Regions from separate parts of the Homo sapiens genome. Here regions 1, 3 and 4 are each linked to region 2. Evidence: fine-mapped expression QTL. A gene starts in region 2. Each other region holds a variant in brackets. All regions are shown on one strand. Distances are between the middles of the regions.

The links.
Region 1: its variant is fine-mapped to the expression of RMI1 in whole blood (INTERVAL, PIP 0.92).
Region 3: its variant is fine-mapped to the expression of RMI1 in whole blood (INTERVAL, PIP above 0.99).
Region 4: its variant is fine-mapped to the expression of RMI1 in whole blood (TOPMed, PIP above 0.99). The same link has a PIP of 0.9 or more in lung.

The regions. Positions count from the first base shown.
Region 1 is chr9:83,854,410-83,856,909 of GRCh38, reverse strand. All of the region lies in intron 14 of KIF27 (kinesin family member 27), which reads left to right. All of the region lies in intron 2 of LOC124900638 (a long non-coding RNA gene), which reads right to left. Among named protein-coding and RNA genes, the nearest start is that of GKAP1, 38 kb to the right of the region's middle. The variant AG/G (reference allele first, on the strand shown) is at 1,123.
Region 2 is chr9:83,979,442-83,982,190 of GRCh38, reverse strand. RMI1 (RecQ mediated genome instability 1) reads right to left here and starts at 1,386. Exons shown (of 3, transcript NM_001358291.2): 1 at 1,300-1,386. It overlaps HNRNPK (heterogeneous nuclear ribonucleoprotein K), which reads left to right and starts at 1,976. Exons shown (of 17, transcript NM_031263.4): 1 at 1,976-2,038. RefSeq lists silencers at 973-1,052, 1,863-2,002 and enhancers at 697-1,205, 1,263-1,352, 1,373-1,442, 1,573-1,632, 1,206-1,713 and 2 more.
Region 3 is chr9:84,018,556-84,021,304 of GRCh38, reverse strand. No RefSeq gene overlaps it. Among named protein-coding and RNA genes, the nearest start is that of RMI1, 39 kb to the right of the region's middle. The variant A/GA (reference allele first, on the strand shown) is at 1,188.
Region 4 is chr9:83,745,326-83,748,074 of GRCh38, reverse strand. All of the region lies in intron 10 of GKAP1 (G kinase anchoring protein 1), which reads left to right. Among named protein-coding and RNA genes, the nearest start is that of UBQLN1, 39 kb to the right of the region's middle. The variant C/T (reference allele first, on the strand shown) is at 1,601.

The DNA.
Region 1 (2,500 bases), 130 kb after region 2:
TTTGAGATGGAGTCTCACTCTGTCACTCAGGGTGGAGTGCAGTGGTGCGATCTCGGCTCACTGCCTCCATCTCCTGGGTTCAAGCAATTCTCCTGCCTCAGCCTCCCCAGTAGCTGGGATTACAGATGTGCGCTACCATGCCCAGCTAATTTTTTTTTTTTTTTTTTTTTGAGACGGAGTCTTGCTCTGTCACCAGGCTGGAGTGCAGTGGCGTGATCTCAGCTCACTACAACCTCCGCCTGCCTGGTTCAAGCGATTCCCCTGCCTCAGCCACCTGAGTAGCTGGCACTGCAGGCAAGTGCCATCATGCTTGGCTAGTTTTTTGTATTTTAGTAGAGATGGGGTTTCACCATGTTGGCCAAGATGGTCTCGATCTCCTGACCTCATGATCCACCCACCTCGGCTTCCCAAAGTGCTGGGATTACAGGTGTGAGCCACTGCACCTGGCCTAATTTTTGTATTTTTAGTAGAGATGAGGTTTCGCCATGTTGGTCAGGCTGGTCTCGAACTCCTGACCTCAAGTGATCCACCCGCCTCAGCCTCCCAAAGTGCTGGGTTTACAGGCCTTGAACCACCACACCCTGCCGAGAACATAAAATTTACAGGGAAATCTCTGCAGTGCTTGCTCAAAAGTTGTTGTTAGTTTTTTGTTTCATTTTACTTGGTCTCTGGACCAGCAGCAACAGCATCACTTGGAGGCTTGTTAGAAATGCAGATCCTCAGGCCCCAAGTGGACCTGCTGGATCAGAATCTGAATTCTAGTGAGCTCCTGGGTACACATTAAAGTTGAAAAGCAGTGCTCTATCATAAAGCAGAGTCAACTCTTGATAACCTGTGGTTTGTATTGTGGCAAATTTTTCATCCCAGGATAGTTACTTACCCATTGCCACGTATCTTGTCAGCCTACACCTATTGCTGAGTTAGAGGGAACTGCAAACACTGATATGCTGCAGCCTCACTGGAGCGGGCTGTCCTTGGGTTTCTATATTCACACTACCTTATATTATCTCAGTACTTCCTTAACTTAGATCCAAAACCATAGAAACTGAATTTATACGAAATTGTCCTCAGCCATGTATAAAGGCAAACTCTTCACATTTGTTTTTGATAAAATATAGTCAC[AG/G]TATAAATTCAAAAGTCAAGTACAGTAAAGTCCTCACTGAACATTGTGGATAGGTTCTTGGAAATTGTGACTTTAAGAGACACCATGTACATCAGGTCCTCAAATTACACTGTTTTCCTTCAACATAGTTGCTTTTGTTACAAAGTTAATAAGAAAAAAAATTTGTTTCGTTATGTATTGTTTCTCTTAAAGTCACAGTTTCCAAGAACCTATTGATGATAAGGACTTACTCTATATTGGATAATTCACTTTTATTTGTGGCTCCTCTTATTCATTCACCTAAGTACATTTTAGTATTTAAGGGGTTTTTTTCTTGAAAAGGTGAATATTATTTTATTCCTTATGGAGCAATTATCAAACCATCAAATTCCATATGGTTAGTGATTGCACAGAGAAATAGAATGGCTGGTGAACATTTTTCTTTAGGTAGATCAGAAATATTCACACTATTGGCCAGGCATGGTGGCTCACACCTGTAATCCCATCACTTTGGGAGGCTGAGGCAGGGAGATCACCTGAAGTCAGGAGTTCCAAGACCAGCCTGGCCAATGTGGCAAAACCCCTTCTCAACTAAAAATACAAAAATTAGCTAGGCGTGGTGGCATGCACCTGTAATCCCAGTTACTTGGGAGGCTGAGGCAGGAGAATTGCTTAAACCCAAGAGGTGGAGGTTGCAGTGAGCTGAGATCCCACCACTGCACTCCAGCCTGGATGACAAAGTGAGTGAGACCCTGTCAAAAAAAAAAAGAAAGAAATATTCATATTATTTTCCTTTGGGATGTTAGGGGAAGGAGTGGAGAGAAATAACATGGGTCCTGTAACCAAGGACACATGAAACTTTTTTCTCTTCTTTCTTCATTAAGTCAACAGATATTGAGTTCAAACTATGTGATAGGTACTGTGCTAGGCAATAAGGGTGTGCAGATGGACAAGATAGTCTGCCACAGGAACTTATCAAGGTGGCCTCCACAATAGGTATGGGTATATGGAAACATATATCCAAATCTCACCAATCTGAAGTAATTCTTTACCACAGATTTGTATCACCAACATAACATGTATTTGGATAGTTCAAAGAACTGGAAGAGCTGGGCATGGTGGCATGTGCCTGTAGTCCCAGCTACTCAGGACGGCAAGGTAGGAGGTTCGCTTGGGCCCAAGACTTTTGAGTTCAGCCTGGGCAACATAGCGAGACCCTGTGTCCAAAATAAAAAAAGAAAAGGAAAAAGAGAACTTGTAGGTTTTCCTACAGGGATTCATCGATCTTCTCTAGTATGTGAAAAAATACTACGTTGCCCTATTTTTAACACCTACATTTTCCTTCTAATAACATTTCATAGGAATCTTATGAAATATTTCAGATACTTAAATCCTCAC
Region 2 (2,749 bases):
AAATACTAACTGGCGGATTAAATCTCTATAATCCAAGTATCCTAAGCCCCTACATAAACTCATCAGTTTTGAATATTTAATAAAATTCTGAACTTTGTGTTTTAGAACTGAAATGCGAGTTAAGTTTTACCTACCCAACAAGACTATACACTCTTCATGGTGGGGACCATTTAAAAAATTATATTATCACTTAAAGAGAACTTTTATAAATTCCACAATCCCGGACATTATGTTCTAACAGCATGTGTTAACGTATCCTCCCAGAATGTAAATACTGGTGTTTGTCATGAAATCCTCAGTGCGCCCTAACAAGAGTTTTCCTCTAATCAGTCAAGTAAAAGATGCTGGGTGGATGCAATCATGGCCATTTAAAAGAATGCTGGTATATATGTTTTGCAAATTACCCAAGAAGGAAACATTATAACAGGAATGAATCAGCACAAATTCATCAACACTAAAATATATGCATGTATTCGGCCAATGGTGGATTTCGCTTTATGTGCAGATTATGACACCTTTATGCTTCAAAATGAGTTTGGGATTGTGGGCGGAGGCTGGAAGGTTGACGAGTAAGGATGTGGAAAGCGGGTACTACCAGGGCTGGAGATTTCCCAGGGCTGTCACCGATTGAAAGTGACCTTATGTGCCTTAACAAAGGAAGTCATGAAAGCTTGGCACAGGAGCCTTAAAAGTAAGGAACCGAATACAATGCAAGTGTGCGCTGAACCCGCTAGAACAGGAGCACGTTTGAGGGCAAGGGTTTTTGTCTGTTTTCATCACTGCCACAAGGCAGGCGCTTTGAATGGAACGTGGAGGTCTGCAACGTATTCAGCGATACGCATTCATTTTAGGAGACAAGGGCAATACATATTGCCTAAAAATTTTATCGGAATAAACTACAGCGACGACACTACAAAATACTTCCATCTCAGGTCCCATTACCCAAGAGGAAAGTCTCAGAACCGAGAGCCCTGTGAAACCGCCTGTGCCCTCTCGGCGAGAAGTTCTCCAGTACTCCCAGGCTCGCCCCGCGTTTCCCCGGCTCCCGCCCCGGCGCAAGGCAGGCCGAGAACCGCCAGCTGCGCCCCCGGGCCCGGCCTTGACTGACGGGCGCCCCGGACCATTACAAACAACGGGTTTCCGAAGCGTGGGCCCGGCCCAGCGGACGCAGACGGCCCGCACTTACCGCGCCGCAGCTCGTCCCACAGCCCACAGACCACAGCCCGGGGCGGGGTAAGGGGCTTCGGGCACGAGTGTGGGCTGTGAAAACACGGGCATAAGTCTGGGCCGAGCACCGACCTGGGCGTCCCGCATTTTCCTCGCGCAACATCGGTCCCTGGGCAGCGCAACTGTAAGGACAGGAACCGCCGCGGCGCGCTCCCAGTTCCTTTTTTACCTCTTCCCGCCCGATTTGCCGCGCGCTCGCGCCCCTCCTCCAACCCCAAAGGACTCCTTCGGGGCTGGAAAACGCCCCTTCCCCGCCCCCTCCCTGTGCGCGTGAACTAGGCAGTTGTTAGATCTCGCGAGAGGTTCGCCCCCTAGCCGCCCCTCCCCCCAGCTAGTGAGTGCGCGAACGAGAAAGGAGGAGGGCGCTCCAGGCGACAGCACTGCAGACGCCATTATCCTCTGTTTCTCTGCTGCACCGACCTCGACGTCTTGCCTGTGTCCCACTTGTTCGCGGCCTATAGGTAATTGGAGTTATTGGAGCTTGGGTATTGCTGATTCGGGTAAGGGTTGGGGCTCCCTGAAAGGCTGCGTTTACTTTTCCCAAGCCCGGGTTTTCTCGAGCCCTTAGTGGCCTCCCAGCCCGAAGGGAGGCGCTGGCGGGAGGCGGGGTTGTCGCCTCCTCCGTCGCCTTGATTGACGTGGCCTCGGGCCAATCGCTTCGCCCTCGCACCATCGCTGAAGCCCTGGCAGCCAATAGGGCGCGACGGCGGGGAGGACGCGAGAAGGCGGGGGAGGGGAGCCTGCGCTCGTTTTCTGTCTAGCTCCGACCGGCTGAGGCGGCGCGGCAGCGGAGGGACGGCAGTCTCGCGCGGTGAGGAGCCGGGTTGGGGGAGCGGCTCGTGGAGGTGAGGGTCGGAGCCCAGTTTTTCCGCTTGAGGGAGGCGTCCTGGGAGCCGCTTTGGTGTTTGGCCGCTTCTCCGAGTGGGAACGTTGCCCGGTGTCCCCTCCCCCACCTCCGCCATTTCCCTGAGCGTGTATCCGCAGTCCGCGTTGTGGTCCTAGAGACTTGGGGATTCGTGAGGCATGTGCCTCTAGGATGAGCTGGAGCTATGTGGCACTGGGAACTAGGGACCTCGTGGAGGAAAGGAGGCCGGTGCGGGGAGAAGGTCGCGCCGCCGCTCTCTTTGTGTGAGCCCCGCCTCACCTTGGGTCTCCCGGCCCGGGGTCGGAGCTGGAGCGGCGGGGATGGAACGGTCAGGGCTGCCTCGATGGCTTTGTCTCGGGCAGTGGGGGGAGGATGCGGGGGATGAGACCTCGGGACCGCGTGGTGGGTGGGGGAGGGGGTCGGCGCTCGGCTCCGCCTAGTAGCACGTAGTCGCCATTACGCGGGCCGCCATTTCCTGTCGGATCCGGGTGAGGAGAGGTGCGGTGCTTCTGCTGTCGACTTTCGCTTTTTCCCGTCCTGTTACCCGGCTGTTTTTGATCTCGGTGCCGGGAGGCGGGGAGGGGAGGGCGCGTTGGCGCTCGGCCAGTGGAGCACATACTTAGCGGATTTTTGAGGCCTGGGGACTAGTGACTGCAG
Region 3 (2,749 bases), 39 kb before region 2:
AAAAAGAGGAATGAGACCTGGGAATGAAAGCAGGGTTATTATTTAAAGCATGTGCTATGGTTTGAATGTCCCCGCAAAACTCTTGTTGAAATTTAATTGCCTGGCTGGGCACGGTGGCTCACGCATGCCTATTATCCCAGCACTTTGGGAGGCTGAGGCTGTTGACCAGCCTGGTCAACATGGTGAAACTCCGTCTTTACTAAAAATACAAACATTAGCTGGGCATGGTGGTGCACGCCCGTAATCTCAACTTCTCGGGAGGCTGAGGCAGGAGAATTGCTTGAACGCAGGAGGTGGAGGTTGCAGTGAGCCAAGATCATGCCACCACACTCCAGCTCCAGCCTGGGTGATGGAGCAAGACTGTCTAAAAATAAATAAATAAAATAAAATAAATAAAAAGAAAAAGAAAAAAAGAAAGAAAGAAATTCAATTGTCCATGTAACAGTATTAAGAGGTGAGACTTTAACAGATGATTAGGTCATGAGGGCTCCACCTTCATGAATGAACTACTACTATTATCATGGGAGTGAATTTCTTATCTCAGGAGTAGATTCGTAATTAGAAGGAGGGGGTTTGGCCAAATTTCCTTTCTCTGTCTTGCGTGCTCACTTCTGCTTTCCATGTTTCTGCCCTGGGATGGCCCTCACCAGATGCCAGAGCCATGCTCTTAGACTCCCTAGCCTCCAGAATTGTGAGATGAATAAACTTCTTTTCTTTACGAATTACCCAGTCTCTGGTATTCTGTTATATCAATAGAAAATGGACTAAAACAGCCTGTATAATATGGAGTATATAAAAAGCGCCCACTCCACTCCCACAAACCAGTAAGCAAAACATCCATCAAGCAGGTGATTGTTCTCCAGGCAGAAAATAATAGTAATAGGCCAGGTGCTGTGGCTGACGCCTGTAATCCCAGCACTTTGGGAGGCCGAGGCGGGCAGATCACTAGGTCAGGAGATCCAGACCATCCTGGCTAACATGGTGAAATCCCGTCTCTACTAAAAATACAAAAAATTAGCCCGGCGTGGTGGCGGACGCCTGTAGTCCCAGCTACTCTGGAGGCTGAGGCAGGAGAATGGCGGGAACTCGGGAGGCGGAGCTTGCAGTCAGCCGAGATCGCGCCACTGCACTCCAGCCTGGGCGACACAGCGGACTCCGTCTTAAAAAAAAAAAAAAAAAAAAAAAGG[A/GA]AGAGAATAATAGTAATAATAAACGTAAACACAGTTTTCTATAAAGAAGTTTATTGAACCATCTAGGAAGAATTAGGGCAGCTAAACGGGGCACTGTTGGCCAAGAAGCCCATTCAAGTATGAAAAGTTCAAAGTCAATCTTTCTATTGCTTCATTCTTTTTTTTTTTTTTTTTCCCCGAGACGGAGTCTCACTCTGTGGTGTGATCTCGACTCACTGCAACCTCCACGTCCCGGATTCAAGAGATTCTCCTGCCTCAGCCTCCCAAGTAGCTGGGACTACAGACACCTGCCACCACGCCCAGCTAATTTTTGTATTTTTAGTAGAGACAGGGTTTCACCCTGTTGGCCAGGATGGTCTCGATTTCTTGACCTCGTGATCTGCCACCTCGGCCTCCCAAAGTGCTGGGATTACAGGCGTGAGCCACCGCACCCAGCCTATTGCCTCATTCTTAAAAGTGGACAGATTATCAAAGATTGCCAGACTTTTAAGGAAAATCTGTAATGTGAATGAGAAACACAAAAGAAAAGAGAGGAATGTATTAAGAGAACTAAAGATAAATTCATAAGACAATTCATAAAACATAAACAACTTTTTTAAAAAAAGATTAGGCTGGGCACGGTGGCTCACGCCTGTAATCCCAGCACTTTGGGAGGCCGAGGTGGGCGGATCACCTAAGGTAATCAAGAGTTCAAGACCAGCCTGGTCAACATGGTGAAACCCCATCTCTACTAAAAAAAATACAAAAATTAGCCAGGCGTGGTGGTGTGCACCTGTAATCCCAACTACTCGGGAGGCTGAGGCAGGAGAATCGCTTGAACCCGGGAGGCAGAGGTTGCAGTGAGCCAAGATCTCACCACTGAACTCCAGCCTGGTGACAGTGCAAGACCCCATAAAAAAAAAAAAAAAAAAAAAAAGATTACTATGTATCCTCAAAAATATACAGAAGATACTACATTTATGAAACAAGAACCAGCTGCTATTAAATTTTTAAATATAATAATTCAATTAAATAACAGAAAGAGTTTTGGGAGATTAACAATTTGATGGCTGAAAAAAATAGAGGTTAGAAGGTAAGGTCAAGAAAGTCTTTCAGAAAGAAGAAACAAGACAAAAAAGTACACCAAGAAGAAAGTTAAGGCCAAGCACAGTGGCTCACACCTGTAATACCAGCACTTTGGGAGGCCAAAGTGGGAGGATCACTTGAGTCCCGGAGTTAGACCAGCCTGAGCAACATAGGGAGACCTCCATCTCTACAAATAATTTAAAAATTAGCTAAGCTTGGTGGCACATGCCCATAGTCCCAGCTACTTGGGAGGCTGAGGTGGGAGGGTCACTTGAGCCCTGGATGTTGAAGCTGCAGCAAGCTGTGACTGTGCCTCTGCATTCTATTCTAGGCAACAGAGCGAGACCCAGTCTCAAAAAAAAAAAGATGAAAGTTAATACACATGAAGACCAATCCAGAAGCCCAATATTTAACTAAAATGATAATTCAAGAAAAAGAAAATGAAAGGATTTTAAAATTAATAATACCAGAAAAACTCCCAGAATGATAGACTGGAC
Region 4 (2,749 bases), 230 kb after region 2:
TCAGTACACTTTGTATGCCTGTATCAAAATATCACATGCACCTCATAAATATATATGATTATTATGTGCCAATAAAAAAAATTGAAAAAAAGACTCAACAAAGTAGAAAGGTTTCCCAGAGTGATATAAGCTACATAGTTGGCCAAGCATGGTGGCTCACCTGTAATCCTAGCACTTTGGGAGGCCAAGGTGGGCAGATCACTTGAGGCCAGGAGTTTGAGACCAGCCTGGCCAACATGGTGAAACCACATCTCTACTAAAAATACGAAAAGTAGCCAGGTGTGGTAGTGCACACCTGTAATCCCAGCTGCTCGGGAAACTGAGGCATGAGAATTGTTTGAACTCAGGAGGCAGAGGTTGCAGTGAGCCGAGATTGCACCACTGTACTTGCAGCCTGGGGAACAGAGCAAGACTGTCTCAAAAAAAAAAAAAAATGCTGGATAGTTGCTGATAAAGTTATTATTACAGGTCACTCTTACAGCACCTTAGTTTTATACCAGTTTATAACTATTCAGGTAAAAGAAACTCTTAAAATTTCAATTCTTATAACTTACTGAACTATATTTAGAGGGAAAACAAGCCTAACATTTGCTTAGGATTCTGCTTTTTCAGTTATTGAAGGAGGCAGCCTGTCATCACTTTAGGTTTTCCTTTTTGTTTCCTTATTTCCTTCTCCCCTCCCCACTGCTCTTCATACTTTTGCTGCTACTCTGTAAACTTTTGACAAGAGGTTACCAGCAGGAAGCCAAGGAAATCAATAGAAAAAAATGATTGCAGATGATAAGATTAGTAAAGCTGATATACAAAAGCCTGCCAAATCAGTTGCATTTCTCACTGTGTATATACCTAGTGACATTTATCTTGAAAGTTTTATGAAAATTTTCCATTCATAATAGAAAAAGAAATATATGTTAATTTTTTAGTATGAGACTTAGGCAAAGGAAATTATAAACCACAAAAGAAACACAGATTAAGACATAAAGGAGAAAATCTTTCTCTGAATAGACAAAATTAATCAACAGTTTTCCTGTTAATAAATGCTAATGAAACTCCAAAGATAGCTCCTGTGAATATTGTATAGCTCTTAAGAAATTGTGAAATTCACCTTGAAAAATGAAAAAACAAAATACCAAAAATGGTTTTCAGATGTGAAGATATAGTCAGCCCTCCATATCCATGGGTTCCCCATCTGTGGATCAATCAATTGTGGATCACAAATATATTTGTTGAAATTGTACATGTGCAGACTTTTTTCTTGTCATTACTCCCTAAACAATAACAGTGTAACAACTATTTACATAGCATTTATGCCATATTAGGTATTATAGGTAATCTAGAGGTGATTTTTTTAAATTGTTATTTATTTATTTATTTATTTTTTGAGAAGGAGTCTTTCTCTGTTGCCCAGGCTGGAGTGTGGTGGCGCTCACTGCAAGCTCCGCCTCCCAGGTTCACACTGTTCTCCTGCCTCAGCCTCCCAAGTAGCTGGGACTACAGGCGCCTGCTACCACGTCTGGCTAATTTTTTTGTATTTTTACTAGAGACGGGGTTTCACCATGTTGGCCAGGATGGTCTTTATCTCCTGACCTCGTGATCCACC[C/T]GCCTCGGCCTCCCAAAGTGTTGGGATTACAGGCATGAGCCACCACGCCCAGCTAGTAATCTAGAGATGATTTAAAGCATATAGAAGGATATGCATAGGTTTTATGCAAATATACACCATTTTATAGTAGGGACTTAAGCATCTTTAGATTTTGGTGTCCTCGGGATGTCCTGCAAGCAATTGTATACCAAGGGATGACTATACTTGGAATATAACTGTCCAAACAAAATTTAAACTACATTACAAAATAGTTGTCAAACAATGAGTAAAAATCAGAAATCATGTCCAGTTGAACAGAACATGAATACTCTTGAAGTAGGTTCAACCTTATATTTTTTATAACTTAACTATTACACAAATAGAAGTTAAAGAATTATGGGGGGAGGCCAGGCGCAGTGGCTCATGCCTATAATCCCAGCACTTTGGGAGGCCGAGGCAGGTGGATCACTTGAGGTTAGGAGTTCGAGACCACCCTGGACAACATGGTGAAACCCTATCTCTACTAAAAATACAAAAATTAGCCAGGTGTGGTGGTGCTTGCCTATAATCCCAGCTACTTGGGAGGCTGAAGTGCAAGAATCACTTGAACACAGGAGGCAGAGGTTGCAATGAGCCAAGATCATGCCACTGCACTCCATCCTGGCTGATAGAGTGAGACTTTGTCTCAAAAAAAAAAAAATACGGGGAAAAATATTATTTGGACATTTAGATGTCTACATCCTGAGATTAATTTAGACCTGTGCATGTTATTGATCTCCATGTGGGTCTTTTAATGAACAAAGTTATGAAAATAAAAAATTAAGTTATTTAGAAGATATATTTCTAAGTGCAGAAATGAAGAGTATCATTGCGTATTGGATGTATAAATTCTAAATATGTAAAAATAAAATAATATTTCCTCCCCATAAAACACTGTGGAAATTGAGAAAGTTAACTGATAAAAGCTTGCTCTCAAAAATAGATTAAAAATCGCTATCAGTAACAACAGTGTCCATAGCATAAGTAATCCAAGTAGAATTTTATATAGGATCATTACATGAAAATACTTGTAACACTTATAATGTAAATGTAAATATGGTCAGTTCTGTAATAATGCAGCATGTGTTCCTAAAAATCACTAGTCTCTGCAAAATCACACAAGATGGCCAG